Homo sapiens: one gene and its partners. The gene in region 5 interacts genetically with the main gene of each other region. Each region holds a gene or a part of one and is shown on either strand. Other genes may lie near its edges. The genes, in order: PELO, NUDC, LEO1, CTNNBL1, CKAP5, METAP2 and SNRPD3.

Region 1 (4,370 bases), on a different chromosome or scaffold from region 5:
TAAACTTAAGTGTCATTATCTTCCTAAGAGATTATCAGGGGACGGAAAGGTCCCCTCCAAGGGGAAAGTCCAAATAAGAACCACTACTTATTAATATTTGTGGCCTCTTTTCTCTTTGTTTCTCGCTCTCTATGTCTCCCCTTACTTCCTCCTTCTTCCCACCTTCCTATCATACTGAGTACCCTCAAGAAGTTCCTAATTCACATTGCCTTCTTCCAATTCCAGGAGAACCCAGCAACTTTTCACTAAGCAAAGAACTAATCACACTCAAGTGTGAAGGTGATTTGCCTATCCAAAGGACACTGTATTTTAAAAAAAGTATCTTGTTAACTTAAAATTCCTAATTGGTAGGGTGAAAGTGTGCTTGTGTGTGTATTTGTGAGAGAGAAAGAGAGAGAGAATGAGGAGATAATTTTGAACTGGGGCTTTGAAGTGCTCCTTGATCATCTTTCTAAGTACAATTTATCTTTCCCATAGTCTGCCAAAGATTAAAAGCCACAGAATCACAGTGGTAAGCACACAGTGGGATCTTAACAAAAGGTTTTTATTGAAGAGCTATCACGTATTGAATGTTTATCAAGTTCTTTCCTATGCTCTAATTCTCCCCTGTAAGGTAAATATTTGTTATCCTAATTTTATAGAAGAAAATCAACTATGGGGAAGTTAAGAAATGTTTTCAAGATCACATGACTAGCATTGAAATTCAGGCCTGCATAACTCCATACCCTCTCTTTCTACTACCACCATCCTATATTATGAATGTTTGTAATCATCTCCTTCACTGCAAATTATGTGCTATTATCCACTGTCACTTCCCCTCAACTGTCACCTTTACCAGCTAAACAAAAACTCACAGCTTGGGAACCAACCTAGAGGATTTGAAAGGCACTAGTCCCTTTCCTGCTCTTTTATCACCTCTTAAAATTATTATACTTTTCTCTTCTACATAGTTTTTTTTTTTCCTTCTGTCCAGCCTAGGTCATCATCATACTCTTAGAGAAAGATCTAATGTTCTACTTTAGAAAAATATACATATATTTATCTGTACATTAGAAACCTGTGAAAAACCCTTATTGACTCTTAAATCCATGGTTAAAAAAATTTTTTTTTAAGTTATGAGGCAAACCACTTTGGGCCATTTTAAAAAATATCAGTGTGCCTCCATAATTCAGTATACTATAAAATCTTTCATAGAATTACTGTTGTATGTGAAACAACTGCAATAGTTGGGAACTTTTTTTTTTCCTTAGTAATTTAAGCCTGTAGTTGACTATTAGATGTTTTCACCCAGATTTTGTTTATGGCTTAGTATTTCTAGACCAATCATTATATTTTTATTTTGATTCATTTTGGATTCCCATTCCCTATGAATTAACGTCTACAATCCCAATTTGCACTGGCCTTACAAATTTACTTCCCACTTTTCCCCTCAGGGCACCCTATATTCCACCTTGAAAGTAACCTTTGTTCCCTACATATGCTAGGAACTTTCTCGTTTGCTACCTTAACTCATACTAACTTCTCTGTTTAAAATGTCACTTCCTTTCATCCCTGCTTCCTTTAGTGCTGCCTATCTTTAAAGTCCAGCTTAAATGTTATCTCAAACTTGAAACCATGTAAACTTGAATCCATGTTAATTTAAACATGTATCTTTTTTGTTGAACTCTGGAAGGATTTATCTTTATACTCCTTTGTCCTTTTAAAGGTCCTTTGCACATAGTAGGCACTCATATATTAATGATAAGCTAGGTGAGTCAAATGTAAAGTATGGCAGCTATTTTAACATTATTACAGACATTTCAAGACATTTCTTAAGGCACTTACTTATATTGTTATTGACTGTATTTCACTTAATAATGGTAGTTCAGAAACTGCTGTAGTTATATATTTATTTTCATTTTTTTCCAAATGAGCAAAGTATTGAGAAAAATACCAGGGCTTTTAGCTCTTTTGCTTTAAATACTAATTTTATACTTATGTATTGGCTGTTTAAAATAGAAAACTTTATATCAGTAACTTTATATCAGTATAAATCTTTATATCAGTAACTTTAATTATATCTATTTTCCCTACAATGTCTTATTTATATTAATCTCTCCAGAAGGGGAAAAAAGTATTGTTACCTCCAAAAGTTTTTAATTTGTTGCTCTTGAGACACTTCCAGTGTCTCAAGAAGAGAACTGGGCTAGAAGTCAAGCATCCTGGATTGTAGCTCTTACTCTTCAATTGTTTTTACTGTAACTTTTGGCAGTACTCAGTCTCTCTGGAACCCAATTTATTTCACTGAAGAATTGAGGGAATTGAATTCAATAATTAAATTTCTAACTAAAAATTATGCTGCAGTAATATTTTTTAAGTGTTTAAACAACACCTATAATCTCATCCTAACATATTTGTTTTCAATTTTGCGTGCTATCTTTCAAATCTGATTTTTCTAAGACCCATTTCAGAGGTGAAAGACTGATTCAAAGTTTCTTGTTTGTGGACCAAGAATTGGCAGACCTCAAATATGGTCTTTCCTGGATGGATTCTACCAACTTGAAATAAGTCCCAGACCGCAATAAAGCTAATTATTTTTCATTCTAAATGATAAATAAGATTATTTGTCCTGCTCTCTCATTTGACCATCCTTATGAGGTCCTAGTGATATTATGATACTTGATATTAATAAATTATAGAGCTCTAAAAATGCCTGGCTTGAAGCTAGAAAACTGGATCAGACAAAACAAGGGACAAGAGCTCATTTTAACATGATCATAATTATTCAGCCTTGGAAAAATAACTGGTTTGGTAGAGTTGACTGATGGATAATCTTTGGGGTACATTTATTTATGTTATTTATGTTATTCAGCTCTACTGAATAAAATGGTTCATGGACCTCATTGGTGAGTTGAATTACTATCTTTCCTATTATAATAATATAAAAGAAATGGTTTGTATGACATGAAATGGAATTATGGGCTCCTGAAAGATGGAAATCTTGTTTTAATACCCTCTGCTTAGCTTGTGACCCTTAAACAGTCGGGGCTGTATAAATTTTCTTGTTTTCATCTTGTATTTTATTTTGGAAGGCTTACTTTCCTGCAACACAAACCTAATCTTTTTGTTATTCCTTATAAAGCACCTTGGGAGCCTCTCCCACCATTGTGTCTTTCCATGTCTACTACCTCTTCCACCAGTAAAGGCAGAGACTTACTACCTTTTATTTGTCTTTGTTCTCCTGGAACACAGCATAACAAGTGGCACATACTCATATTTTTAGTATGCAAAAATTAATGGTTATTAATTTTTCTTTAATTCAGAGTTTTTAACTTGTCTGTAACTGACATTCTAAAATTAGGAAATCACATTCTGTTTTATAATGTTACTAAAAACTTAAAAAGAAGGTTACTCTTAAGGTAAGTTTGTATAAGCCTATTTCAATATTTGAGATAGCCGTGCTTAGGTAAGAAAATGGTAATTTAAAATACATCTTCCCCAGGAAAAGTTCTTAAAATATTTTAGAATAACACATAATGGCAATTAGTTTTATTATACATGGTTTGGAAAGTGAACTTTACAAAATAAGAAGCCAGAGCTCCAATTATGAATATCTAGTGATAAACGCAATTGTTTATTTAGAGAGAATGTGCAAACCTCAGATTGTGCAAAGGTTCCCATGTGACCTCCACCAGCAAAGCTAAGTGGATGACTGGGAGGATTAGTTAGCTAATATAGACAAAAGGGTAAAAGGGAAAGTGGTTTTTTTTGTTTGTTTTATTTGTTTTTTTTTTTAAGGAACTTGTACTCACTCACTATCTAAATTTCTCATGATGGAAAGTGCTTACTTGCAGTTGTCACAAAATAATACAAAACCTCCTACCAAATAAACAAAATCCTATGAACAGAAGTGTGTGTGTGTGTGTGTGTGTGTGTGTGTGTGTGTATTTCTATTTGCATGTATTCTTATACGGCATAAGATCATTTCACCAAAAATATTATAAGTAAAATGTGTTACACAGATATTTTTAAGGATTGGCCAGTACCCATGTATTTCTAGACTTTAGTATTTGGTAAAATAAAAGTCTAATTAATAAAATAATTTTGAAAGTACATTTAATTTGTAGTAAGGATATATGATTTGTAACAAAATATATAAACCATCTTAACTATTGATGTTTTAAAGTGACTTAGGTGCTATATTTAAATTTAAGAATTTGCATTTATTTTAGGAGATCTCATATAATTCATACAAAAAGAGTATGTGTATCCACTCCTTTGCATATTTGAATTACAATGATTTCTCATTTCAGATCTCTTACTTATCTTGTTAATAGGGATCTCCTGTTTGGATAAAATTGATTTTTTTTAACACATAAAGTGAATTCCTA
Region 2 (4,370 bases), on a different chromosome or scaffold from region 5:
AATCTCCTGCCTACTGCTTTCTCTGGAATACCCTTCCTTATCCTATCCCCTCCCCTCCTGGCTTTGGGAATCTTCCCCATACTTTAAGATCACACTCAGAGACATTGAACCAAAGGATCCAGGTTAAAAAAATAAAAACCTGCCAGGCGCAGTGGCTCACACCTGTAATCCCAGCACTTTGGGAGGCCGAGGTGGGTAAATCACGAGGTCTGGAGTTCAAGACCAACTTGGCCAAGATGGTGAAACCCCATCTCTACTAAAAATACAAAAATTAGCCAGGCATGGTGGTGGGCGCCCGTAATCCCAGCTACTCGGGAGGCTGAGGCAGAGAATTGCTTGAACCCGGGAGGCGGAGGTTGCCATGAGCCGAGATCACGCCACTGCACTCCAGCCTGGGCGACAGAGCAAGACTCCGTCCCAAAAAAATAAAATAAAAACCGACTGACCTTAACCTGTTTATGGCAAGAAAACCCAATAGCCAGAGAGGGCAGTGCCTATTACAGGTCCCATCTGAGGTTGGCTGGGTTCTGTGGGCCCAGCCATATCCTTTGTCACATGGTATAATATTAATAGTCTGAGCTCCTCTCAGACTGAGATCAGAACCAAGTTTTACCTGGTTCCCAGTGGACCAAGGCTTGGGGGTCTGCCCCTCTGTGGAGTGGGCAGGGACCAGGTCTGTTTTCTTTTGTGGCTGTATGCCCAGTGCTAGCCCTGGGCTTGGCCCAGTGAGGGTTCAATCTGTGTCTTGTCTGTCAAGTAAGTAGCTGAGTGTCCCTGATTGTAAGCAGGATACTGAGGAAGATGAGGAGGAAGATGAGAAGGACAAAGGAAAACTGAAGCCCAACCTAGGCAACGGGGCAGACCTGCCCAATTACCGCTGGACCCAGACCCTGTCGGAGCTGGACGTGAGTGTCAGGGACCAGAGGTAAAGCTTAGGGGGCCAGCCTGGGGTACCAGCAGCACTTAGTGGCCTCTTCTGACTGCCTCTGCCCTATGCAGCTGGCGGTCCCTTTCTGTGTGAACTTCCGGCTGAAAGGGAAGGACATGGTGGTGGACATCCAGCGGCGGCACCTCCGGGTGGGGCTCAAGGGGCAGCCAGCGATCATTGATGGGGAGCTCTACAATGAAGTGAAGGTGGAGGAGAGCTCGTGGCTCATTGAGGACGGCAAGGTGGTGACTGTGCATCTGGAGAAGGTATGTGAGGCCCAGCCCTTCTAGCCTGGGGTGTTGATGGAAGTAGAAGGGAGGATGTGTGCTTAGTTTACTCAGGAGCCATGCTGGGGGCATTGTGGGATTATCTTAATCCCCATGACAACACTCTTTAAAGTAGATCTGTCTCTATTTTATTTTCTTAAAGACAAGGTCTCACTCTGTTGCCCAGGCTGAAGTGCAGTAACACCTTCTTAGCTCACTGCAGCCTTGAACCCTTGGGCCCAAGCAATTCTCTCGCCTCGTCCTCCTGAGTAGCTAAGACTACAGGTGTACACCACCACGCTCGGCTAATTTTTGTTATTAAATTTTTTTGTAGAGACCGGGGGGTCTCACTATATTTCCCAGGCTGGTCTTGAACTCCTGGCCTCAAGTGATCTTCACACCTTGGCCTCCCAAAGTGCTGAGATTACAGGCTTGAGTCAGGAAAAGAGCTCGTTGATTTACCCAAGCTCCTACCTCTGGGAAGGGGTGGAGTCAGAATTGAAAGTCTTAGTTTCTAAAGCCACTTCTTTTTCACTAGGTTTGTACATGCATTCAATTCATCAAATACTTGAACACCTGCTCTGTGCCTGGTACTGTTCTTGTTCTAAGTGCTGGAAAGAGAACAGTGAACAAAACATAGGAAAATATGTGCCCTCAGGAAGCCTTCATTCTCAACCTCACTGCCTTTACAGAGAGGTAGGACACAGAGATCAGTAAATAAAGGTGGTCTGAAAAGGGCCAAGGGTCTGAGGAGAACTTCCCAGGGCACATAAGACCCTGTAACAGCCTGTCCGACTGGCACTGGCTGCCTTCACTCACTCACCCCTCCATGCCTCTGCACTTGCTTTGTCGCCCAGGCTGGAGTGCAGTGGCGCGATCTCGGCTCACTGCGAGCTCCGCCTCCTGGGTTCATGCCATTCTCCTGCTTCAGCCTCCAGTGTAGCTGGGACTACAGGCGCCCGCCACCATGCCTGTATTTTTTTTTTTGTCTGTTTTGTTTTCTATTTTTTAGTAGAGACAGGGTTTCACCGTGTTAGCCAGGATGGTCTCGATCTCCTGACCTTGTGATCCGCCCACCTCGGCCTCCCAAAGTGCTGGGATTACAGGTGTGAGCCACCATGCCCAGCCCTTTCCCTGCCTTTTAAATTTATTTTTTATTTTTTGAGACAGGGTCTTGTTCTCACCCAGGCTGGAATGCAGTGGCGCAATCACGGCTTACTGCAGCCTTGACCTCCCGGGCTCAAACGACCCTCCCACCTCAGCTTCCTGAGTAACTGCGAGCGCCACCCTACCTGGCTAATTTTTAAATGTTTTTTGTAAAGACAGGGTCTCATGTTGCCCAGGCTGGTCTGAAACTCCTGGGCTCAAGGGATCTTCCTGCCTTGGCTTCCCAAAGTGTTGGGATTACAGGTAGGAGCCACTGCACCTGGCACTTCCCTGCTTAAAAACTTTTTCTGGCTGGGCGTGGTAGCTCATGCCTGTAATCCTAGCGCTTTGGGAGGCTGAGGTGGGCAGATCACGAGGTCAGGAGTTTGAGACCAGCCTGGCCAAGATGGCAAACCCCATCTCTAATAAAAATACAAAAAATTAGCTGGGCATGGTGGTGGGCGCCTGTAATCCCAGCTACTTGGGAGTCTGAGGCAGGAGAATCGCTTGAACCCAGGAGGTGGAGGTTGCAGTGAGCTGACTGCACCACTGCACATGGTGGCTCACACCTGTAATCCCAACACTTTGGGAGACTGAGGCAGGCAGATCATCTGAGGTCAGGAGTTTGAGACCAGCCTGGCCCAATATGGTGAAGCCCCGTCTCTACTAAAAATACAAAAATTAGCCAGGTGTGGTGGTGCATGCCTATAATCCCAGTTACTCGGGAGGCTGAGGCCGGAGAATTGCTTGAACCCGGGAGGCAGAGGTTGCAGTGAGCCGAGATGGTGCCACAGCACTCCAGCCTGGACAAGAAGAACAAGACTCCATCTCAAAAAATATATATATTTATTTTCTTCCCATTTTAAATCTGGAATACTGCTTTGTGTCTTAAGACTCAGCCCGAGTGTCACTTTCAAACTTTTCTCCCTCCACCCTGGATGAATATCTCCCTTTCTGCTTTCTTCTTTCCCTTATCACACTGATTTGTAACTCTTTGCCTCTGTGTCTCCCCTAGCTGCAGGAAGGGCACAGTCTTGTACCTCTGGATCCAGTGTAGGCCTGCAAGGGTCTCAGGTGCAGGATGTGGATGGGAGAGAGTTTGGTTGTGAAAGGGTTAAGGGGTGATTCCTGGTGCACAGAGCAGGCCACCTCCCACCCTCTGGTTGTTCTCTTCACAGATCAATAAGATGGAGTGGTGGAGCCGCTTGGTGTCCAGTGACCCTGAGATCAACACCAAGAAGATTAACCCTGAGAATTCCAAGGTGAGCCCTGGCTGGTTGGGGGAGCTTCAGCAGGAAGGTGAGGGGCCTCGTTGTTTCCAGAGCTTCACCGATTCCTGTCACTGCCTGCCCTCAGCTGTCAGACCTGGACAGTGAGACTCGCAGCATGGTGGAAAAGATGATGTATGACCAGCGACAGAAGTCCATGGGGCTGCCAACTTCAGACGAACAGAAGAAACAGGAGATTCTGAAGAAGTGAGCAATTCAGAGACGGGGTTGGGGGACCGTGGGTGCCTGGGGGCTTAGACTTCGGTGACAGCAGTGAGTGGATCACTGCGCTGCCTCAGGAGCTGCCCTGCCCCCTTTCCAGCCATGTTTATGGCTTTATGGCTTTGGCTTGCCTACTCTTGTCATTTGCTGAGGTCATCTTGAGGGCAAGGCCGGCTCATGGTGCATGATAGGAGGGAAGGGGTAACAGGCGGTCATTGCCACCTACAGGAAAACAATGCCAGTGTTGGTGCCTCAGCTTCCAGCCTCGGGACTCAAATGCGTCTCAGATACCCTGGGCCCTGCTCCTGCCCAGCCTGGCTTGGTGTTGCTGAGGTCTAAAGAGATTAGACTTGACACGGGGGTGCTGGGAGAAGGGACAGCTTTAGAAGAGAAGGATGAGCTGTTTCATCTTGCTTCCGTTTCTCCAGGTTCATGGATCAACATCCGGAGATGGATTTTTCCAAGGCTAAATTCAACTAGCCCCTGTTTTTTCCTCCCTGAACTCTTGGGGCTGAGCTGCAACCACCCAACTTTCTTTCC
Region 3 (4,370 bases), on a different chromosome or scaffold from region 5:
GTCTCTACTAAAAATACAAAAATTAGCTGGGCATGGTGGTGCATGCCTGTAGTCTCAGCTACTTGGGAGGCTGAGGCAGGAGAATCACTTGAACCCAGGAGGCAGAGGTTGCAGTGAGCTGAGATCATGCCACTGCCCTCCAGCGTGGGCGACACAGCGATGCTCCTTCTCAAAAAAAAATATATAAATACCCACTAGAAAATAAGAAATTTACAGGAAATCCTTCGGATTTAAGAATTGAAAATGCATAATTCCAGTTTCAGTATCATGCATTCAACCACCTCTTGTTCCCTTGTGCAACTCAATTCTAAAATGTCTACTTGGCCAAGTGCAGTAGCAATCATGCCTGTAATCCCAGCAATTTGGGAGGTCAAGGCGGGAGGATCACTTGAGCTCAGAAGTTCAAGATCAACCTGGGCAACACAGCAAGACCTCATATCTACAGAAAAAAAAAAAAGGCTGGGCATGGTGGCATGTTTTCTGTAGTCCCAGCTACTCAGGAGGCTGAGATGGGAAGATCACTTGAACCCAGGAAATTGAGGCTGCCAAGAGCTGGGTTTGTGCCGCTGTACTCCATCCTGAACAACAGAGCAAGACCGTGTCTCAAAATAAAAAGATGAAACTTCTGCTGAACCTACATCCTCCTTACTTAAAAGATTAGAGGCCCTCCTTTGATAGCGTGACCAGATGGTATAAGGTATCAAAGAGAAGCATTAATGGGAATTTAGTACAATAAAATTCTTTCCTAATAGTCAACAAAAGCAATCAAAAGAACACAGCCATATAGTGAAGTGTTAGGTAAAAAAATCACTTTCAAAAGCTCAAGTTTCAAGTTAGTATCTCCAGGTTTTACTTTATAAAAGAAAAAAAAGGAAAAAGCATGAAATGGTACCTTTAATTTTAACCTGGTTCTACCTTCTTCATCCAGCATTTCTTCATCTTCAAATTCATCTTCATAATACTGAGGATCAAAAGGTCTACAAATTGTTTTCCAAATAAACTATTAATCATATTTTATAAAGAATATTACTGCTATGTAATAACATCTCTATTAATAAACACCATTATATCAAAAAATCATAATATAATTTTAAAAATCATAATGATCAATATCTTCATGCTTAACTTCAAGGAAGTAGTAATTGTACTTTTTTCTTTTTTTTTTTTTTTGAGACCGAGCTTTGCTCTTGTTGCCCAGGCTGGAGTGCAATGGCACGATCTCGGCTCACCACAACCTCCGCCTCCCAGGTTCAAGCGATTCTCCTGCCTCAGCCTCCCGAGTAGCTGGGATTACAGGAATGCGCCACCATGCCTGGCTAATTTTGTATTTTTAGTAGAGACAGGGTGTTTCTCCATGTTGGTCAGGCTGGTCTCAGACTCCTGACCTCAGGTGATCCGCCCTCCTCGGCCTCCCAAAGTGCTGGGATTATAGGTGTGAACCACCACACCCGGCCAGTAATTTTACTTCTTAAAATTTGTTGTTAATACATATTGCTTGAAATAAAGTACAAGCAAGGGTAAATATTCAAAATATCCTTTCTTCTTCTTATGTAACTCTGCCAAAGAATAGGCAACATATGCTCTAGCTTTCCACATCATTGTGCCTGTGGAAAAAAAATTTTAAAAGCACAAGAGCTCGAGTAAACTTAGTAAATAATACCCATCAAACACTGTCTAATTGTCCAAAACCATTACCTTTTCTAGACCAACAATAGCTGCTACAGTGGACACTGGCATTTCTCTAGCAAATTTCATCGCTTTCAATTTCAGCCTTTTCAGGGTTGTACTAATTAAAAAAATACCTTGAACACTTGTGGTGTCTGTTAATTCATAAGAAAGTATCAAACTGCTAAAAACAATCATAGCATTAAAAGCCTCCCTTACTAATACATATTTTTTCTATCTCAGGATGTGCTTGACTAATTTTTTCAGAGATACACGATCAATTTTCCGTTTTTGTGATTTGTCAACTCAATGCGAAATAAGAAAAATAAACATTCTATGTATTTCTACTCAACATCCTGAAAAAATTTTAATTGATTTCCTTACCTGGGCTCTACACTGAGAAAGTTGGGCAGTTTAACAAAATATAAGTCGTTTCCTAAATCAGTGTTTACTTTGGGTATTTCTACTTCTATTCTGGTCTCAGGAATTGGCTCCTCTTCCTGTTGATCCTGAGGCAATCCATTTTCATCCTAGTGAAAGAATCGGAAGTTTGGAGCTTGACAGGACCTTAGAAATGGCTTCCTTCAACCTCCACACTTTAATTACTCTGGGGTGCAAGAAACATAATTAGATATCACTTTAGGACTAAAGAAGTCCCCAGTCCCCATCCCAACCCACCTACACACAAAATGGGAAACGATCAATTTGGATACCTCAGTACAAAAAACTATCTCCTTTATGATAAATCTGTCTTCCAAATACTCAACAAAAGTGTGAAATTAACACTTCAATAGGAAGTCACTCTATCAATTAAAACCAGAGAAGATTATCAACATAGCAGACACTTCTTGGCATGAGCAAGAAAAACATTCAAGTCAATGGTTCTCAAATCACAAGTCCTCACAGTTCAGTCCCCTAAGGCATGACACCAACCTCATGTTTGGCAGTTATTTCCACTCCCCCTTATAACCAAGAGTTCCCTACATAATGAAGAAAGTCATCTGTTCATGGTATTTTCATACTAGAATTCAGTTATCAACTTCCTTTCCTGGAATAAGGGAGACTCTTCACCTTTGAAACTTTATGCCTGGCCTTGAATAAGTTCATGTTACTAACTGACTTACAACAGGCTGTCCTGGAGTAGGTGGTTTGTCTTCTCCATCACTCCCTGAAGAGATATCATCTGCACCTCCAAATAAATCCATGGTTCCACTATTATCTTCAATGCAGAAGGAAAAAGGCATTAGTGTTACTATCTGTAACTAAGGTTCTTCACAGCTGATCACTTCAACACATTCCCAAGGTTTCTGGACCAGCATCAGAAAACCACCAAAAACATAATGCTGAGCCTGGCTCTCAAAGACCCAACCAGAGAGTGTGGGGAGAGGGAAGGGGGCAAATCTAGTGAAAGGCAAGCTGCACAGGAGGCACTTATTTCTCCTTTCATTTTCACCATCCTTGTTCTCCCACTTTCCTTTATTCCCCAGGAGCCCAAATGTTTCCTACAGTCTAGATGCTCAAAGTTGGGGCTGAAGCACTCCACAGACACCCATTTTCCATAAGTCTATCCCAGATTCAAAATTACAGTCCAGGCATAGTGGTTCATGCCTGTAATCCCAGCACTTTGGGAGGCCAAGGCAGGTGGATCACTTAAGGTCAGGAGTTTGACACCAGCCTGACCAACATGGTGAAACCCCGTCTCTACTAAAAATACAAAAACTAGCTGGGCTTGGTGACAGGTGCCTGTAATCCCAGCTACTTGGGAGGCTGAGGCAGGAGAAAGGAAGCTGCCACACCTGGCGGTAGAACTCCTTTCATCCTTCCAACTTATAATACCAGGTGGTGGTGGTGGTGGTGGTGGTGGTGGTGGTGGTTGCGGTTGTTGTTGTTGTTTTGAGACAGAGTCTCACTGTTGTTGCTCAGGCTGGACTGCAGTGGTGCGACCTTGGCTTACTGCAACCTCTGCCTCCCGAGCACAAGCGATTCTCGTGCCTCAGCCTCCCAAGTAGCTGGGACTACAGATGCACACCACCTCGCCCCGCTAATGTTTTGTATTTTTAGTACAGACAGGGCTTCACCATGTTGGCCAAGCTGGTCTTGAACTCCTGGCCTCAAGTGATCCACCCACCTTGGCCTCCCAAAGTGCTGGGATTACAGGCGTGAGCCACTGCACCCAGCCAACACTGGGTTTTTATGAGCTCTTCATCTAACTCACAGCTCAAAGAATCAGTTTCTTCATCTAAGTCAAGAACTTAGGAACAAAACACCGAGACTGTCATTATTCAAAGTGAAGAATGGACATTGTAACCTCCATCCCAATAAGAAGGTCAGCCCCCTAATAATGAATTCACTCTAACTATAAACAGACTGGGCGCAGTGATTCACGCCTGTAATCCCAGCACTTCGGGAGGCTGAGGTGGGTGGAACACTTGAGATCAGGAGTTCGAGACCAACCTGGCCAACATAGTGAAACCCCACCTCTACTAAAAATACAAAAAATTTAGCCAGGCATGGTGGTACGTTCCTGTAATTCCAGCTACCAGGAGGCTGAGGGAGGAGAATTGCTTGAACCCAGGAGGCAGCAGTTGCAATAAGCTGAGCTTGCACCACTGCACTCCAGCGTGGGTGACAGAGCAAGACTCTGTCTCTTAAAAAAAAAAAAAAAAACTACAAAGAGGCAGGTTCTTCTTCAACTAATTAAGCAT
Region 4 (4,370 bases), on a different chromosome or scaffold from region 5:
TAAATGTGAATTCTTTATTGGAAAACTTCAGAGGTAAGAACTTTTTCCAGACATCTGTGGAATCAGATTTAATGAGAGTGCCCTGGAGTTCATATATGCGCCTATGCCAGCAGAAACTTCTCAGCCAAGGCACTGCTGGGCACACTTCTTGATGAGATGTCTAAGCCTGAAGGCATCAAAAAAGTACATTTCCATATTGGGAACATAACTGGTTCCCTCTTGAAGACTTTTTCCACCACCTCCTGCCCATATTGTAATTCTCCTGTCTTCTCAAATGAATAGTTAACATATGTCAAGGATATACGGCATATACTGAGGCGCTTAGTGCCTATCTCTATTACTTGTAGAAGAACCAATCTCAGCAGAAAATTGGAATCTTCCCACCAAGTCGCCCCAAAAATGAAATGTAGTAAGCACCCAAAAAATGTTAAATACTTTTAATAAACATTTCTTGACACTGCATGATATTTTTCCTGGCTTAGTCTCTGAATTTTAGAAACGGCATCCATCTTAGTCTCTGAATTTTGGAAATGAAAAGAACCAGAAGTCATATCGCTCAGTCTCCTCATTTTACAAGCGATTGAAAAAAAATGATGTATAGAAAGGGAAAGTGACTTGTCCTGAGTCACCCAGATAAGTAATGATAAAAGTGGGATTAAAACCCAAATCTCCCAGATTCTCAGCCCCACTCAGTCTACCACATGAAGCGTTTTTATCCCTTGAAATCTCTGGAGCCCCGGTCTAAATAATTAGTACCACAGAATTTTAAAGCTAGAAGGGGCCTCAGAGAGAGTCGCGTACTTAATCCCCTCATTAGGCATATGAGGAAACTGAGGCCCAGGAAGATTAAGTGATTTGCTCTCAATATCTTGAATGGCAGGGAAAAAGTACAACTTAAGCTCAAAAATCTGCAAACCAATGCCCACAAGAGAGGAAGAGAATGTCTCAGCTGGGGAAAATTTTTCAAGGAAGGGAGATCATTTTAGACCAGGGGATCACAAAGTACAGCATCAGCATCACCTGGGATCTGGTTAGAAATGCAGAATCTAAAGTCCCACAGGAGACTGAATCAAACTCTAGGGATGGGGATGTTCAAATCAGACAATTTTGTTCCCTTATGTCCCTGAGAAGCAAACTTCAGTGGTCGTACTGAGTCTACTTTGTAAATGATAACTATAACCAAAGGCTCATAAGATGTATGTATTATTCAACATGTGGACTATACTTCAACTTTAAAAAGTTTTCAAATCTGAAAACAAAATGGAAAACTACCTCTGAGTGTTCAGCTGGTTTCAGTTCTGGCCCTGCTCCTTACTGGTTGTCTGGCTTTCGGCAGGCAGCTTGACCTCCCTAGGTTGAGTTTCCTTTCCTATAATACAGGCATGCTGCCAACCTCAGAAGGCATGTTGAGAATTAAATGTGATAACTTGTCTGAAAACACTTTGGTTCTGCATCTGGCATATAGCAGGCAGGCAGTATGGCACAGTGGTTAGGAGCTCCAACTATGAAGTAAGACTACCCGGGTACCCTGGACTTGCCTCTACCTAGCTAGATGCCTTAAGGTAGGTGCTCTTTTCTGTACCTCAGTTTCCTTATCTGTACAACAGGGATTAACAACAGTACCTTCCTCATAGGGTTGTTATGAGGATTTAGATAGATCATGCTGGTTAGTAAAGCATCTTTCATGTCTATAAAATGTTACTGTTTTCAAGGAGTTTTTTTGTTTGTTTGTTTTTTGTTTTTGAGACAGGGTCTTGCTCTGTCACCCAGGCTAGAGCACAGTGGCATGATCTTGGCTCAGTGTAACTTCTGCTTCCCAGGCTCAAGTAATCCTCCCTCCTCAGCCTCCTAAGTAGCTGGGACCACAGACACACACCACCATGCCCAGCTGATTTTTAAACTTTTTGTAGAGACAGGTTTTCACCATGTTGCCCAGGCTGGTCTGGAACTCCTGGACTCAAGAGATCCGCCTGCCTTGGCCTCCCAAAGTGCTGGGATTACAGGGGTGAACAACCACGCTTGGCCTCAAAGAACTTTTGCATCCATAAACTCATGACTTTCTGCAAGAGGATGGGTGCAACTGATTATGAACTACATTCCAGCCTTTACCATCTTTTAGGAACAGGAAGAGTGGACATGGATCTTACAAAAAGAAAACTGAATGAACAGAACACATGGGGAATGTACAGAGTTGGAAATAAGGAGACCAGGATTCTGAGATAAGGGCCAGGTGGTGTAAGGAAGCCAGGGCCTGAATAAGGTCCTGAGGTGGATTTTGGGACTGGTGCTGCTTTCCAAGCCTTAGACCATGATTCTGAATTTGGGTTCTGAAACTTAGCCTTGAATTGAGGATATTTCGCTGAGCAAAGGCCTAGAGCTGGTTTTTGGTGCCTAACGGGTGGGCCTCTCACCTCTCGAATGGTTCTAGCCGGCCAATTAACCAAAGTGGGGAACCTGCGATGGGGAAGGAGATGCTCCTGGCTGGCCAGCTGGACATGAGCATGCCCGCCCTAGGCTGGCGAGATCAAAGTGCTCTCCAGTAGCAGACTTAGGAGGTTTCAGCCCTGTTACTGGTTCAGTTCAGTGTTGTCAACCTGAATTAAATGAGTTCTAGTATTGTAGTTCCTTATTGTGCAACCAACATATTTGCATTTTAAAACTCTTAGATTGAACCCTCAGATACAATAGAAAATGTAAAGGCCAAGATCCAGGATAAGGAAGGCAAGTAATATTTTGCAGTTCAGGAAAATTAGCCTGTGGCAACCCCAATCTACCTGTAGGCGCTAGGCATATTTGCTCTTGGTGAGGGGGAAAGGGGTCAGATTGACAAAATGAAATACTTTTGGAATAACACAATAAACAAATGTTTATGATCACGAAGCAAAGCTACCTAGATTGGAATCCTTGAGGTACATTTCACTTGTGTGAATCTGGACACGTTTTTTATTCTCTATACCTATTCCCTCATCTTTAAAATGAAGGTTCCTATATTAACATATTAAGTACTGCCATTAAGATTAAATGTGGTAAGATGTGTAAACATTAAAAAATAATAATAAGGAGACCAGGATTCTAGTTTCAACTCTGGCCACCATCTTGGCCCACAACCTCAGGTGAGTCCCTTTATCAGACTAAGGTTCACTTTCATCCATGAACAAGTGGGTTGAATGAAGGTATCTACCGTATCTCTCAAAGTCAAGGTCTTTATCGTGGCCCACAAGGAAGGCCTACATAGTCTTGTCACATGCCTACATCTTCAGCTTTGTCACTTACCATTCCCCTGCTCACTTCCCGTTTCAGCTACATAGATCCTCTTTCTGGTCCCCTATGAGGCTGCACCAGCTTCTACCAATAGCCTATGTCCATACTTGCTGTTCTTGCTGCCTCCATCATTCTGCTCCCTTCACATGACTGGGTCCCTCTCAACCTTCAGTCCTTTAATGCCCATTCCTCTGTGTCCTTCCTCGACCACATTACATAAAGTAAAAGGTCCTGTCCCCAACTCCCAGGGGTTATTTTCGACAGGAGTGTTGTCCAATAAAAATACAACAAAAGCCACAAACAAAACACCTAACTTTACATTTTCTTTCTTTTTTTTTTTCTTTGAGAGAGAGTTTCGCTCTTGTTGCCCAGGCTGGAGTGCAATGGGATGATCTCAGCTCACTGCAACCTCTACCTCCCAGGTTCAAGCAATTCTCCTGCCTCAGCCTCCCAAGTAGCTGGGATTACAGGCATGCACCACCACGCCCGGCTAATTTTTTATATTTTTAGTAGAGACATGGTTTCTTCATGTTGGTCAGGCTGGTCTCAAACTCCCAACCTCAGGTGACCCACCCGCCTCAGCCTTCCAAAGTGCTGGGATTACAGGCATGAGCTACCACACCCGGCCCACTTTACATTTTCTAGTAGCCACATTTTAAAAGTTTTTTAAAAAGCAACATTAATTTTAATAATATATTTTCTTTAATCCAATATATCGTAAGTGTTATCATTTATTCAACATGTAATCAGCATAAAAGTTAAGGTACTGTACATTATTTTCACGTGGCCAGGGGCAGTGGCTCACGCCTGTAATCACAGCACTTTGGGAGGCCAAGGCTGGCAGATCACCTGAGGTTGGGAGTCAAGACCAGCCTGACCAACATGGAGAAACCCCATCTCTACTAAAAATACAAAAATTAGCCAGGCGTGGTGGCGCATGCCCGTAATCCCAGCTACTCAGGAGGCTGAGGCAGGAGAATCGCTTGAACCCAAGAGGCAGAGGTTGCAGTCAGCTGAGATCTCACCATTGCACTCCAGCCTGGGCAACAAGAGTGAAACTCCATCTCAAAAAAAAAAAAAAAAAAAAAAAAAGATATTGTACATTATTT
Region 5 (4,370 bases):
TGAAGGGAAGCTCCCAAATTCGATACAATGAAAGAAGAATTTCTCCTCTGTTGTAGTAAATAAAATTGGTCATATATTAGCATAAGAGCTTTCAGAGTTCTTTTTTTTTTTTGAGATGGAGTCTTGCTGCGTTGCCCAGGCTGGAGTGCAATGGTGCAATCTCGGCTCACTGCAGCCTCCGCCTCCCAGGTTCAAGTGATTCTCCTGCCTCAGCCTTCCAAATAGCTGGGATTACAGGTGCCTGCCACCATGCCTGCTTAATTTTTGTATTTTTAGTAGAGACAGGGTCTCACCATGTTGGTCAGGCTGATCTCAAACTCCTGACCTCAGGTGGTCCACCCACCTTGGCCTCCCAAAGTGCTGGGATTACAGGTGTGAGCCGCTGCACCCGGCCTCAGAGTTCTTTTGAGAATAAAATTTCAATACCCTTCTACATGGCTGTGACTATTTTGTTTTCCTTTTTACCCCCCTTTGTAGGTTGTTGGAAAGGACACCAATGTCATGTTGGTGGCTTTGGCAGCAAAATGTCTTACTGGCCTGGCTGTTGGGCTAAGGAAGAAATTTGGACAATATGCAGGACATGTAAGTAACACTCCTTTTTAGATACAGATCAACAAAATTTATCAAAAATGGTAGGCCTAGTTTGCTGTTTGCTTTAAAACAACTCCTTGGCATAGATGTGTATATACTGTACAAAGTAAATTTCTCTCTGTTTTGTTAATATTCAGCATAGATATATCTTAGAAATTTCAGTAGATGTCAGTTGTAACAAAATTTATAGGCCTTATGTAGAAAGTCAGGCACTAGGCCTAAAGTACTTAGTTGAGTTTATTTATTTGCTTATTACTTATTTACTTACTAGTATCTTGCTTTGTTCTTACAACATTATACACATCATAACAAGATGAAACAAAACTTGTAACGACCAGGACCAGAATGAAAATGAGAGTCGGAAAGGCAATGTAAAACTATAAATGTAAAACTGTGAGGTTAATATATAAAATGTGTTTTACATTGTTTTCCTATTTTAATATATAATTTACTTACATATTTGAGACATTTTATATAGGTTACAATGTTATATATTTTATATAGGTTATCTCCGTTTTACTTATTCAAAGAAAATCTGACTGGAGACATTTGTTGACTTACTATTTGTATAAGTTTGTTTCCAATCAAATTTGGTAATAATTTTAATTAAGATGTTTTCTTTAACTGTGGCATCTGTCCTTTGGCCTCTAAATCCGGTCTGCATTACTAAGAATGGCTCAGCATCCTAAAAATTGACCTTATTGATCTTTAGAGTTTAGCTTGCTAGCCCCTTCATCATTTGATTCCCTAGACTGACTTAGGAGTTTCCTAATAGTCCCTAGTCATGTGTCCATTTTATATTGTGAAGCTAATACCTAGCCTCACATGAGCTATGGTATTTGGAGCTTGCTTACTCATAGCATTAAAAATAATCTCAGAGAACTTAACTGAAGAAAAAGAAGACACTACCAAATAAAAATAAATCATGACTGGCTTATTACTAGGGAAATAAAAATAAGGGTCTGTAAAACCCTTAGACATATACATCATAAATTGAAATAAAATTAAAATCTATTTTTATAGCAATCAATATTATATAATATCGATGTGTATATGCCATTTTGATCAATTTTATATTACTTAGGATATTTTACACTTTTATATTGGGAATAATTTTTCAAGATAAAAAACAATTTTTTCCTACACCACTTAAATATCAGTTCAGAGAATAATTTTAGTTTTTTTTTTTTGAGACAGGGTCTCACTTTGTCACCCAGGCTGGAGTGCAGTGGCACCATCTCAGTTCACTGCAGCCTTAACCTCCTAGGCGCAGGTGATCCTCCCACCTCAGTCTCCTGAGTAGCTGGGACTTCAGGCACACCCCACACCATGCTTGAGTACTTTTTGTATTTTTGGTAGAGATGGGGTTTTGCCACCTTGCCCAGGCTGGTCTCGAAATCCTGAGCTCAAGCTATCTGCCTGCCTCAGCCTCCCAAAGTGCTGGGATTACAGGCTTGAGCCACCACACCCGGCCTAAAATTCATTTTAATTTACCAAATTATGGTTGGATAATTAACTGGCTTTCCAGTTTGAGTTCTGATTCTGGCTTTGTTTCAGTTTGTTGTCCTGGTTAAAGAATGTCTCTATTGCTCTGTAGTTTGGGGTCTCCCCCACCTTAATACTGTAATATATGCGGTGTTTAGTATCAAGCATGTTACTGACTTGGCTTTATTTTCTTTAAATGTTTACAAACTTTTTGGCAATATTTATAAAAGTGAATGTTAGCTTTATAGACATTAAAATATCTTGATTTTCAAGTTTATAACTAGTATTAAAAAGTCTTGTATTTTTCCATGGGAACCATAGTCCTTGAACTATACCAAGTAGTCTATAACCACTTCTGTGAAATCTTGAAAACAATTATTTCTTGTTTTTGGATGCCATTGAGCTTTGCTGTGTCCTTTGGACCTTAGAAATTTTCTTCCCCAGCCTGGGCAACATGGAGAAACCCCCGTCTCGACAAAAAATAAAATAAAAAATTATATTTACAGGGAAATGGTCAAGAAATTAAGAATTAAAAAAAAAAATAGCAGGTGTGGTGACATATACCTGAGGCCTACCTACTCGGGAGGCTGAGATGAGAGGATTACTTGAGCCCAGGAGGCCGAGGCTTCAGTGAGCCATGTTCATCCCACTGCACTCCCACGTGGGTGACAGAGCAGAGGCGGCAAATAGGTTGAGAAGCACTGCCATAGTGGGAGAGAATGAGAATTCTTCATTGTTCCGGCATAAGATACGATGTCCTTCATGAAAGGAAATGACTTTTTATTCCACTTAAATGTTTGCTTTATTGGTTTGTTTTGGTGGAGACAAGGTGGTTTTTTAGAAAGTAAGTTTTATTGAGATAAAACTTGCATACTATAAAATTTACCCTCTTAAAGTGATTTTAGAATATTCACAATGTTACATAACCATCAGCACTATCTAATTCCAGAACATCTTCATCACCCCAAAAAGAAACCCCTTGCCCATTAACAGTCTCTCCCCATGCTGCTCCCTGCCCTTGACTCTAGCAACCACTAATCTACTTTTTTGTCTCTGGATTTAACATTTCATGTAAATGGAGTCATACAATACATGGTCTTTGTGACTGCTTTTTTTTTTTTTTTGGAAGACAGGGTCTTGCTGTGTTGCCCAGGCTACAATACAGTGATGCAGTCGTAGCTCACTGCAGCTTTGACCTCCTGGGTTCAAGTAATCCTCCCACCTCAGCCTCCCAAGTAGCTGGGATCATAGGCACATACCACCACACCTGGCTAATTTTTTTTTGTTTGTTTTAGTAGAGACAAGATCTCACTCTGTTGCCCAGGCTGGTCTTGAACTCCTTGCCTCAAGCAACCCACCTGCCTCAGCCTCCCAAAGTGCTGGGATTACAGGCATGAGTCACTGTGCCCAGCCTGTGACTGGCTTTTTTTTTAACTTAGCATACTATTTTTAAGGTTCAGCCATGTTCTAGGATATATCAATATATCATTCCTCTTTGTTGCTGAATAATGTGCTAGCCATTCACTTTTACAGGTTGTGCCAACCATCTTGGAGAAATTCAAAGAGAAGAAACCTCAAGTGGTACAAGCCCTGCAGGAGGCAATTGATGCAATCTTCCTTACTGTAAGTTGACAGCATGAGTTTGTAGTTTTATCTGAAGTAAAGTTTGTAAATATAATATTTTGATTGTTCTTTACAATTGAAAAAAGCTCATTAACCACATTTTCTTTCTAAAGACCACACTACAGAACATCAGTGAGGATGTTTTAGCAGTAATGGATAATAAAAATCCAACCATCAAGCAGCAGACATCTCTTTTTATTGCAAGAAGTTTCCGCCACTGCACTGCTTCTACCCTGCCAAAGAGCTTGCTAAAGCCCTTTTGTGCTGCACTACTTAAGGTACAGACTCTCTTTGAAGTTGGGGGAATATTTTATACCTAGGCAAGATTCTTTTCCTGCAAATTATGTACAGTGACTACTTGACTTTCAGACTATAGAGGTTATGATCTTTTGAGGAGCAGAGCCTTTGCAGCTTGGAAACTGAATCCAAATTCTCCTGTGTTCCTCTTCTTGAAAGAAAGCACAAGTTAGTGTTATGATTCCATTAACTGTTAAACATGTTGTTTCTTACTTGTCCCATATACTGGTGTTCAGCTGAATCTGGCCAAGCATAGGCATCAAATGTGGAGTATTTGAAGATCATTTGGGAGTGAGTTATTTTAGATAGAGGGTAAGAGGAAAAGGAAATACTTATTTGCTAAATGGATTACCAAGGGTTTCCTTAACCCGAAA
Region 6 (4,370 bases), on a different chromosome or scaffold from region 5:
TTTTCACTAAAACAAAAAAGCAAAGGGAACTTGTTTACTTTTACATTCTTACTTTTATATATTAATACCATATAGTTCATCAAGTCCAGAAAGTTTACTAAAAACCTTAAATACCTTCTGGGAATGATCTGAGCACTTTCTGAATATAAATAAATAACAGTTCTCTGATGCTATGAAAATAGCATATCTTTAGAAGACAAGGAATTTGATTCTGCTAGAAAGTCAGAGAAACACAATCCACTTTTAACTAAATTTACTAGAAAATAAGAGTCTAACTTAGACCAATTTAAATGCTGATCTTATTTGTTCATGTTGTATATTTTTTAAATTGTAGGAATCAGAGAATTACATGTTATACTAACCATTTATCAAAAGGAAAAACTAGAGAATAATTACTTGAATTGGTTTTGTTACTGTATTATCATCATGTTCTGTATTTGGGCAATTGCTCCAATACTTTCTTATTTCTTAGTATGACTTGTTAGATAGCAAAATAACAGATTTCCAGATAGAAAATAACAATCAGTAATGACTACATGTGCACACAAAAGGGTGGCTGAGGTGCCAATGTGTACTCCTCTTCATGGTTTTCTCATAGTGACACTAAAATAATCTAGAAGGCATTTCTACAACCTTTACTTAAAGATTTAGCAAAGTGGTAATGAAAGCCAAACATTATAATTGGAGAGTTAGTACTTAATAAAACATTTTTTATCATGTTCTTACGAAGAAGTATTCCTTTTACCAGATTTCTATCATTGTCATCCCAGGCTTGATCCAGCTCATTACGTATTTTCTAACTTGTCGATGTGCTTCTGCAGCTTCTCGAAAATCATTCCAAATCTCTTCACTTGCCTGATCTAATGCTTTCTTTTCTTCACTTGTAGTTCTCCAAGCAGCTGTTCGCCTTTAGAGTGGGCATAGAATACTATTAGTGATAAAACAGCAGAACAAGCATAAAAGCTGACAACTATACTAAGTAACAAGACAGTTCAAATAAAAATACAGTACATATTCAGTTTATGTCAATAAAGTTTCTGAAATACAAAAAGCCAAACACTTGCAACCAACTCAAATGAAATTAAAAACTTTTTAAGACTCTAAGGGAGGGAAAAAAACCCTCATGTGAGATTTCATTCATAGTCAGAGGAACTAATACCCTGACAACACAAAAAGATAATAAAACAATCAGAAAAGTCTGAAGAGTCCTAGAATCAGAGTAAGTAGGAAAAAGTCATCCTTCCACTTGAGGTCATATATACTTTAGACACTTCAAAGGAGCACAACAACAATTTGCATTTAATTTTGCCAACAGAGTAACTACTAACCCAAGAAACTGACTTGGAAATCTGCATATACTTCCTCAAAACACATATTACATGCGTGTGCTGGGTTTTCCTAATTGTATACATAAATATAAGAGGTATTCTTCCTTGAAAGACATGGCTCACATTTTAAAACTGCCAGTGCTAACGAATTTCTTTTTTAAGAGACAGGGTCTTACTCTGTTACCCAGGCAGATGCAGTGATGTGATCATAGCTCACTACATCCTCAAACTCCTAGGTTCTTCCTGCCTCAGCTTCCCAAGCAGCTGGGAGTATACAGGTGCATACCAGCACACCCAGCTAATTTTTAAAAACTTTTTCTTTAAAGAAATGGGGTCTTGCTATGTTGTCCAGGCTGATCTTGAACTCCTGCCCCGAAGTGATCCCCCTGTCTCAGCCTCCTGAGTGGCTGGGATTACAGGCGTGAGCCACCCCAACTGACAGAATTTTTTATTCAGTATCTGGGAATAAGATCCATGACTCCTGTAGTAGGAAAAACATTAACTGCCTTAAAATGATATTTAAAAAAAAAAATCTAAACAATTTTCACACATTCTTAAATACTGAATATACAGTTTGCAACTTAGTGACCACTGAGTATAAATTACACAAGTGTAAAAGTGATACCTTCAAGGAATTGCTATTTGCCTCCCCTGTTTTATAAATAAAATTTTATTGCAACATGTGCCCACTCATTTATGTACTGTCTATAGCTATTTTCATGCTACAATGGCAAAGCTAAGTAACACTCAAGGCCTAAAATATTCACTATATGCCCTTTGAAGAAAAAGTTCACTCAACTCTGCCCTAAACTACAGACCCTGGCCAAGGTGGGAGGATCACTTGAGGCTAGTAGTTCAAGACCAACCTGACTCTGTCTCTGACTCTGTCTCTACCAAAAAAAATTAGCTGGGCGTTGGGCTTATCCCTGTAATCCCAGCTACTCAGGAGTCTGAGGCAAGAGGATCACTTGAGCCCAGAAGTTCAAGGACACAGTGAGCTATGATTGCACCACTATACCCCAGCCTGGGCAACAGACCAAGACCCTGTCTCTAAAAACATAAAATAAAAAATAAAAAATAAAAATAAATAATAAAGAAAAAAGAAACAGAATTAAAGAAATTCTTTTGCTCAAAGTCTCGAGTTCAGATAGAAAGTTATTAACAATAAGAAAAACCCAGCGTCAGGGTCTATAATTCCAGACTCCCCCAAAACTCCTTATAAGTGGACTAAAAATTTTTTTAAAATCTGCCTCAACACACCTTTACTAAGAGTATTATTTTCCTATATTTTATCTTATTTAGTTCAGTCAATTAAACAAAAGTATAGCAATTAAAGCCAGGTACAGTGGCTTACTCCTATAATCCCAACAGTTTGGGAGGCCAAAGTGGGAGGACTGCTTGAGGACAACAGTTCAAGACAATCCAGGGTGACACAGTGGGACCCTGTCTCCACCAAAATATATACACACACATATACATACACACACACACACACACACACAAACACACATATACATACACACGATAGGCCAGGTGCAGTGGCTCATGCCTATAATCCCAGCCATTTGGTAGGCTGAGGCAGGAGGACTGTTTGAGCCCAGAAGTTCAAGGTCAGCCTGGGCAACATAACAAGACTCCATCTCTACAAAAAGAAAAAACAACTTTAGCCAGGCAAGGTGGTACATGCCTGTAGTCCCAGCTACTTGGGAGAAGGGGTAGGAGGATCACTTGAGCCCCAGAGGTCAAGGCTGAACTTAGCTAGATCTCACCACTGCACTCCAGCCTGGGTGACAGAATGAGACCCTATCTCAAAAAATAGTAATGACCAGGCATGGTCGCTCACACCTGTAATCCTAGCACTTTGGGAGGGCAAGGGGGACAGACTGCATGAGTTCAGGAGTTCGAGACCAGCCTGGGCAACATAGAAAGACCCTGTTTCTACTAAAAATACAAAAAGTTACCCAGGCAAGACAGTGCACACCTGTAGTCCCAGCTACTCGGGAGGCTCAGGCACGAGAACTGCTTGAGCCTGGGAGGCAGAGGTTGCAGTGAGCCAAGACTGCACCACTGCACTCCAGCCTGGGCGACAGAATGAGGCCCTGTCTCAAAAACATAATAATAACAATTAAAATGTATGCATGTATCACATAAAATCCTTCCTCTAAAAACTGGTACTTAAAGGGTAAGAAATAAAGCATATTTTAACTCTGCCTATAAGAAGGAACTATAGTTGATTCCCAGTTGACAGAGAAAATTCTTCTTACAGAATAGTATCACCTAATAAATGTAGAAGGAATGAAAGAATCAAAAATCCACCATTTTGCAGTTCCCAATGAAATAACCCATAAAAGCAAGGATCATCAATGGATATTAAAAGAATTAAGTGAAAAGTTGTTAAGAAAAGGATATTCCTTTCTTCTCAAGTTTGTATAAACTAAATAGGAAGAAAAGGAAGGAAGATAGATATTCCAAATGATACCAAAGTAGCCCCACAGATTACTTGGAAACTGCAAAAAGCAAAAAGTACCTTTAAAAGAAAAAAAAAAAAAAAAGAGTTGGCTGTCACATTAATCAAGAGGTCAAACACAATAAAACTAACAGTAGGATAGCCTGAGATTACATCTAATGTAGCAGAATATGGTACAATGTGAAGGTCATAATCACTTATTTTATACCTCTGTCAAAAATGTTTAACCTAAATCTAATCTAAGCCCATTAACACCTAATTCCAGTTTACGGAAAACACAGAAATAGAGAAAAAAGTTTAACCCCCAACAAGGAAACAATCGGAGAAATCCCAGAACATGAGACCTCTACAACTGCCTGGTTTCTTCAAAGAGATGGGGCACTGAAGAGAAAGAGAAAAAGGTGAGGCCTCTAACCATATGCAATGAGAACCTCAAGTGGATCCTGGTTTTAGAAAGTAAACAAACATTACTATAACTACTAAAAATTAGTTTCAAAGCTACTTGGGAGGATAAGATGGGAGGATAATTTGAGCCCAGAAATTGTAAACCAGCCTGGACAATACAGCAACACCCC
Region 7 (4,370 bases), on a different chromosome or scaffold from region 5:
CACCACAACGATTCGGAAAAGATAAATAGAGGATCTCACTCTGTTGCCCAGGCTAGTCTTGCACTCCTGGACTTAAGCGATCCTCCCACCTTGGCCTCCCAAAGTATTGGAATTACAGGCCTAAGCCACACCTGCCCTGTTTTGGGGTTTTAGTATTTACTTTTTATTCTATCCTCTTTCAGAAATAGTTAGACCCTGTCTCTTCTGAAAAGCAAAAAAGTTTAAAAATTATCTGGATGTGGGGCTGGGCACTGTGGCTCACGCCTGTAATCCCAGCACTTTGGGAGGCTGAGGCGGGCAGATCACGAGGTCAGGAGATTGAGACCAGCCTGGCTAACACGGTGAAACCCTGTCTCTACTAAAAAAAATACAAAAAATTAGCCAGGTGTGGTGGCGGGCGCCTGTAGTCCCAGCTACTCGGGAGGCTGAGGCAGGAGAATGGCGTGAACCCAGGAGGCAGAGCTTGCAATGAGCCAAGATCGCGCCACTGCACTCCAGCCTGGGCGACAGAGCAAGACTCCATCTCCAAAAATAAAAAATATATTATCTGGATGTGATGGCTTATGCCTGTAGTCCCAGCTACTCCATAGGCTGAGGCAAAAAGGATCACTTGAGCCCACCCAGCAGTTCAGGCTGCATTAAGCTCTGGTCGCACCACTGCACTCCAGCCTGGGTGACAGAGCAAGACCCTATCTCTAAAATTAAAAAAATTCTATGGCAGGATAAAAGTAGATGCATAGATCATGGTGCAGGTAAGCTGGGGTAGAATGTAAAATGAAGCCAAGCAGTCAGTATCCAGAAATGTAAACCTGAATCTCTCTGTACATTGAATAAAGGTATATTCCAGTGTAAGATTAAGCAGGGAAGATCATCAGTTCCAAAATGCATAGTGTTCTTAAGTTAAAATAGCAATTGTGTGGATTTCCCTGGCACTCAGATACAGGAGACACTATTAGATGATATCCTCGACAACATCCCCATACAAAATACCCTTTTATGGTCCCTCAAGTAGTTTTAAAGTATCCTGTTATCTTAGCACTGTTTTTGACATTTGAAAATGCAAAATATGGCCAGGCACATTGGCTCATGCCTGTAATCCCAGCACTTTGGGAGGCTGGGCCAGGGGGATCACTTGATCCCAAGAGTTTGGGACCACCCTGGGCAACACAGTGAGACCCTGTCTCATATATGTGTGTGTGTGTGTGTGTGTGTGTGTGTGTGTGTGTATGTGTGTATGTATGTATATATGTATGTATATATATGTGTGTGTGTGTGTATATATATATATATTTTTTTTTTTAAAGGAAGAAGAGGAAATATGTGTATGTGAAACTCAGGATGAGGTCCCTGAAATGGTGCTTATCGGGTCAGAGGGTGTGCATCTGAGGTTAAGCTGGGAAGGCAGGGAGCTTTTGTTCTCCTTCTCATTCCGACAGCTGCAAGCCAAGCACTGGTGGCCAGTGCTGCAGGATAGGGCATCAGCTGCAGGATATGGCATGTTGGTCAAAATGCTGTTGGCATAAGTGAGAAAAATAACAATACTCCAAAATATGTCCCCAGTTTTATAAAAATGGACCCAAATTATAAATGATACAAGCAAATACAGAGAGTAATGGTCAAACCCATTTCACTACATTCAAAATGACTTAATTCTTAGAAGTTTTGGTGGGAGAATGTGGTGTAGAGCTCTGCACAAGCAGACATTGTGCTTTTGGGGCTTCAACATGACCACCCAATCACTGATGGGACTGTTTGAAATCTGTTTTGTTGGCTTTGGCATATAATAGCCATCTTTGGAAAACTGGTCTCTGTATGGAATATGGTCTTGTGTCACTGTATAAAAATGAGAACCCAAAAGAAGCTCTCACATGATTGGGTCAGAAAATTGCCCATAACTATTGCTAGGAAAGTTTTTGAAATCTCTGAATTCAATGTAATTGAATTTCTTTAGACACCTAGCCCTCTAGGTTGAAGGAAAACCAGTTTTTTAAACTTATCGTATACTTTTTTTTTCCTGTACTGTTTGTGTGTGGATTGCATTCATCATGCTCCTCTACCCCATAATACTTTTGTATTTCCTAAGAACAAAGATAGGTAGATGGCCTTAGTTGGTATTCGTATTATAGCAGTGGCATCCAAGCACCTCTGCCTTTGTGTATGTGTGAAATTGTCCTAAAGAATGCATTTCTGGTGTATTGACAGGCCTGAGACACCCCAACACACCTTCACAGTCCTGGAGCTAGCTTTCTCCATCTTGGCCCCAGGTATCTAAGAAAGTCCCACCACTTTGTGCTACAAAGATTCTCTCTCTCCCCCTCAGGATGTCATTTCAGTTGGGTACCTGGCTTATACCATATGTGTTTCATTGTGGCTGTTGAGGAAAGTTGATTAAACTGGGTGTTCCTGCCTGGAGTTGATTAGGATCTGGTTCACTCAAAAGTTGCTGCCTTGGGCTTGTGATACAAACACAGGTCAGGCTTATTAGCAAGCTCTAGCAGGCATGTGTGCAGTGAGACTGTGGGGTTTTGTCCACAGCAAGCTGTTCTTAGCCAGTGCTACAGGGAAAGCGAGAGCAGTAGTGAGCCTGGTTGTTAGGGTTAAAATAGGAGTCAGAGGACACTGGACTCTCCTGCTTCAGCCAGGACATAGTTCATTTATGGAAATGCCTAGATTAAGTCTTGTCGGACTTATGCAACAGCTTCTGTCAGGAAAGGAGTGAGATGTGCCCCTGTGCTGGAGGGAGTGTGGCTTAGCAGTGGCACAGCTCCCAAAACACATTTTAGCTGTCAATCAGATTTAGCATGTACTGAGTCTCTATTATGTATTAGGCAATAGAGACAGCATTTAGACATACTTTGCCTTGTTCATTTTTTTTTTTTTTTTTTTGACAGGGTCTTACTCTGTTGCCCAGGCTGGAATGCAGTGTCATAATCATAGCTCACTGCAGCCTTGAACTCCTGGGCTCCAGCCATCCTCCCACCTCAGCCTCCCAAGTAGCTGGGACCACAGGCATGCACCACCACACCTGGCTAATTGTTAAAAATTTTTGTAGAGATAGGATCTTGTTACATTTCCCAGGCTGGTCTCAAACTCCTGACCTCAAGCAGTCCTCCCACCTTGGCCTCCCAAAGTGCTGGGATTACAGACATGAACCACTGTACCTGGCCTGATTTGCTTTTTAACAATTTCAGGAAATGTGCAGTGGTTAAGAGTGTGAGTTAGAAAGAACTGGGTTCAAACTCCAGCCAGGCCATGTAAGCGTGGTGTGACCTCAAGCAGGAGAATAGAGGGAAAGGGCATGGGTTTCTGGGGACAGATCTGCCTCTGAATGGCTATGTCACTTCATCTCTTTACCTTGTAGGATTTTGTGGGGTAACATGAGCTGCCGTGGGGAAATCACCTGGGCCAGCACTTGATGTCTAATAAGTGCTCAGTAACTGTTGGCTTTGTTGTCTTGTATTTTCAAAACTCAGCTTTGTAGTTGAGGGAACGGAGGCTCAGGGAAGCCTGGAGATATACCTAGGGTTACACTTCTGACAAATGGCAGAGCTGGATCTCACCTATAGGTCTTTAGGCCTATTTTGTGTCTTCTACAGAGTCATGAGTGTGGCACAGTCCCCAAAACACGTTTTTTGTTTGTTTGGTTTGTTTTTTGTTTTTTGAGACGGCGTCTTGCTCTGTTGCCCAGGCTGGAATACAGTGGCGTGATTTTGGCTCACTGCAACCTCTACCTCCCGGGTTCAAGTGATTCTCCTGCCTCAGCCTCCCGAGTAGGTGGGACTACAGGCACCTGCCACCACACCCGGCTAATTTTTGTATTTTTAGTAGAGCCAGGGTTTCACCGTGTTTGCCAGACTGGTCTCAGGTGATCCACCCACCTCGGCCTCCCAAAGTGCTGGGATTACAGGCATGAGCCACCGCGCCCAGCCCCAAAACACATTTTAATTGTCAGTCAGATTCAGGTGAGCCTGAGTTGTATCCAGTTTCTGTCTTGGGTAGTCTGACCATAAACCTGGCGTTCATTTGTGGCACTAGAGGTTATGGTATTCTTCAGGGGAAGAAAAGGATTGGTAAGGACTTGGGAACTGGATGAAAATTTAATAACAGGCTGGGAGTGAGGAGCCTGGAGCAGAAGGTTTATGAGAAACTGGAGCCCTGTTGCCCCTGAAGGTAGAACAGGGATAGTGGGTAGAAGCTCTAGAAACCATTCCTCTAGAAACTGCTCATATACAACAGGGGCGGCCCCAGAGCATAGTTTTGTTTGTTTTATTTTTGAGAGGATCTTGCTCTGTGGCCCAGGCTAGGGTGCAGTGGCTCCATCACAGCTCCCTGCAGCCTCGACCTCCCAGAACCAAGTGATCCTTTCACCT

Evidence for each region.
Region 1: changes in CKAP5 (region 5) and PELO together harm fitness more than expected from each alone (negative genetic interaction), as found in Homo sapiens cells (one large-scale study listed by BioGRID).
Region 2: changes in CKAP5 (region 5) and NUDC together harm fitness more than expected from each alone (negative genetic interaction), as found in Homo sapiens cells (one large-scale study listed by BioGRID).
Region 3: changes in CKAP5 (region 5) and LEO1 together harm fitness more than expected from each alone (negative genetic interaction), as found in Homo sapiens cells (one large-scale study listed by BioGRID).
Region 4: changes in CKAP5 (region 5) and CTNNBL1 together harm fitness less than expected from each alone (positive genetic interaction), as found in Homo sapiens cells (one large-scale study listed by BioGRID).
Region 6: changes in CKAP5 (region 5) and METAP2 together harm fitness more than expected from each alone (negative genetic interaction), as found in Homo sapiens cells (one large-scale study listed by BioGRID).
Region 7: changes in CKAP5 (region 5) and SNRPD3 together harm fitness more than expected from each alone (negative genetic interaction), as found in Homo sapiens cells (one large-scale study listed by BioGRID).

The regions. Positions count from the first base shown.
Region 1 is NC_000005.10:52,794,056-52,798,425, reverse strand, and holds part of PELO (protein pelota homolog), read right to left. Parts: intron 1-4,370. UniProt on the Homo sapiens protein: Component of the Pelota-HBS1L complex, a complex that recognizes stalled ribosomes and triggers the No-Go Decay (NGD) pathway.
Region 2 is NC_000001.11:26,941,872-26,946,241, forward strand, and holds part of NUDC (nuclear migration protein nudC), read left to right. Parts: intron 1-788; coding exon 789-905; intron 906-999; coding exon 1,000-1,194; intron 1,195-3,518; coding exon 3,519-3,602; intron 3,603-3,696; coding exon 3,697-3,815; intron 3,816-4,258; coding exon 4,259-4,310; 3' UTR 4,311-4,370. UniProt on the Homo sapiens protein: Plays a role in neurogenesis and neuronal migration. Necessary for correct formation of mitotic spindles and chromosome separation during mitosis. Necessary for cytokinesis and cell proliferation.
Region 3 is NC_000015.10:51,957,850-51,962,219, forward strand, and holds part of LEO1 (RNA polymerase-associated protein LEO1), read right to left. Parts: intron 2,885-4,370; coding exon 2,790-2,884; intron 2,196-2,789; coding exon 2,050-2,195; intron 978-2,049; coding exon 893-977; intron 1-892. UniProt on the Homo sapiens protein: Component of the PAF1 complex (PAF1C) which has multiple functions during transcription by RNA polymerase II and is implicated in regulation of development and maintenance of embryonic stem cell pluripotency.
Region 4 is NC_000020.11:37,696,419-37,700,788, reverse strand, and holds part of CTNNBL1 (beta-catenin-like protein 1), read right to left. Parts: intron 1-4,370. UniProt on the Homo sapiens protein: Component of the PRP19-CDC5L complex that forms an integral part of the spliceosome and is required for activating pre-mRNA splicing.
Region 5 is NC_000011.10:46,797,412-46,801,781, reverse strand, and holds part of CKAP5 (cytoskeleton-associated protein 5), read left to right. Parts: intron 1-477; coding exon 478-582; intron 583-3,609; coding exon 3,610-3,699; intron 3,700-3,812; coding exon 3,813-3,977; intron 3,978-4,370. UniProt on the Homo sapiens protein: Binds to the plus end of microtubules and regulates microtubule dynamics and microtubule organization. Acts as a processive microtubule polymerase. Promotes cytoplasmic microtubule nucleation and elongation. Plays a major role in organizing spindle poles.
Region 6 is NC_000012.12:95,490,593-95,494,962, reverse strand, and holds part of METAP2 (methionine aminopeptidase 2), read right to left. Parts: intron 908-4,370; coding exon 746-907; intron 7-745; coding exon 1-6. UniProt on the Homo sapiens protein: Cotranslationally removes the N-terminal methionine from nascent proteins. The N-terminal methionine is often cleaved when the second residue in the primary sequence is small and uncharged (Met-Ala-, Cys, Gly, Pro, Ser, Thr, or Val).
Region 7 is NC_000022.11:24,562,018-24,566,387, forward strand, and holds part of SNRPD3 (small nuclear ribonucleoprotein Sm D3), read left to right. Parts: intron 1-4,370. UniProt on the Homo sapiens protein: Plays a role in pre-mRNA splicing as a core component of the spliceosomal U1, U2, U4 and U5 small nuclear ribonucleoproteins (snRNPs), the building blocks of the spliceosome.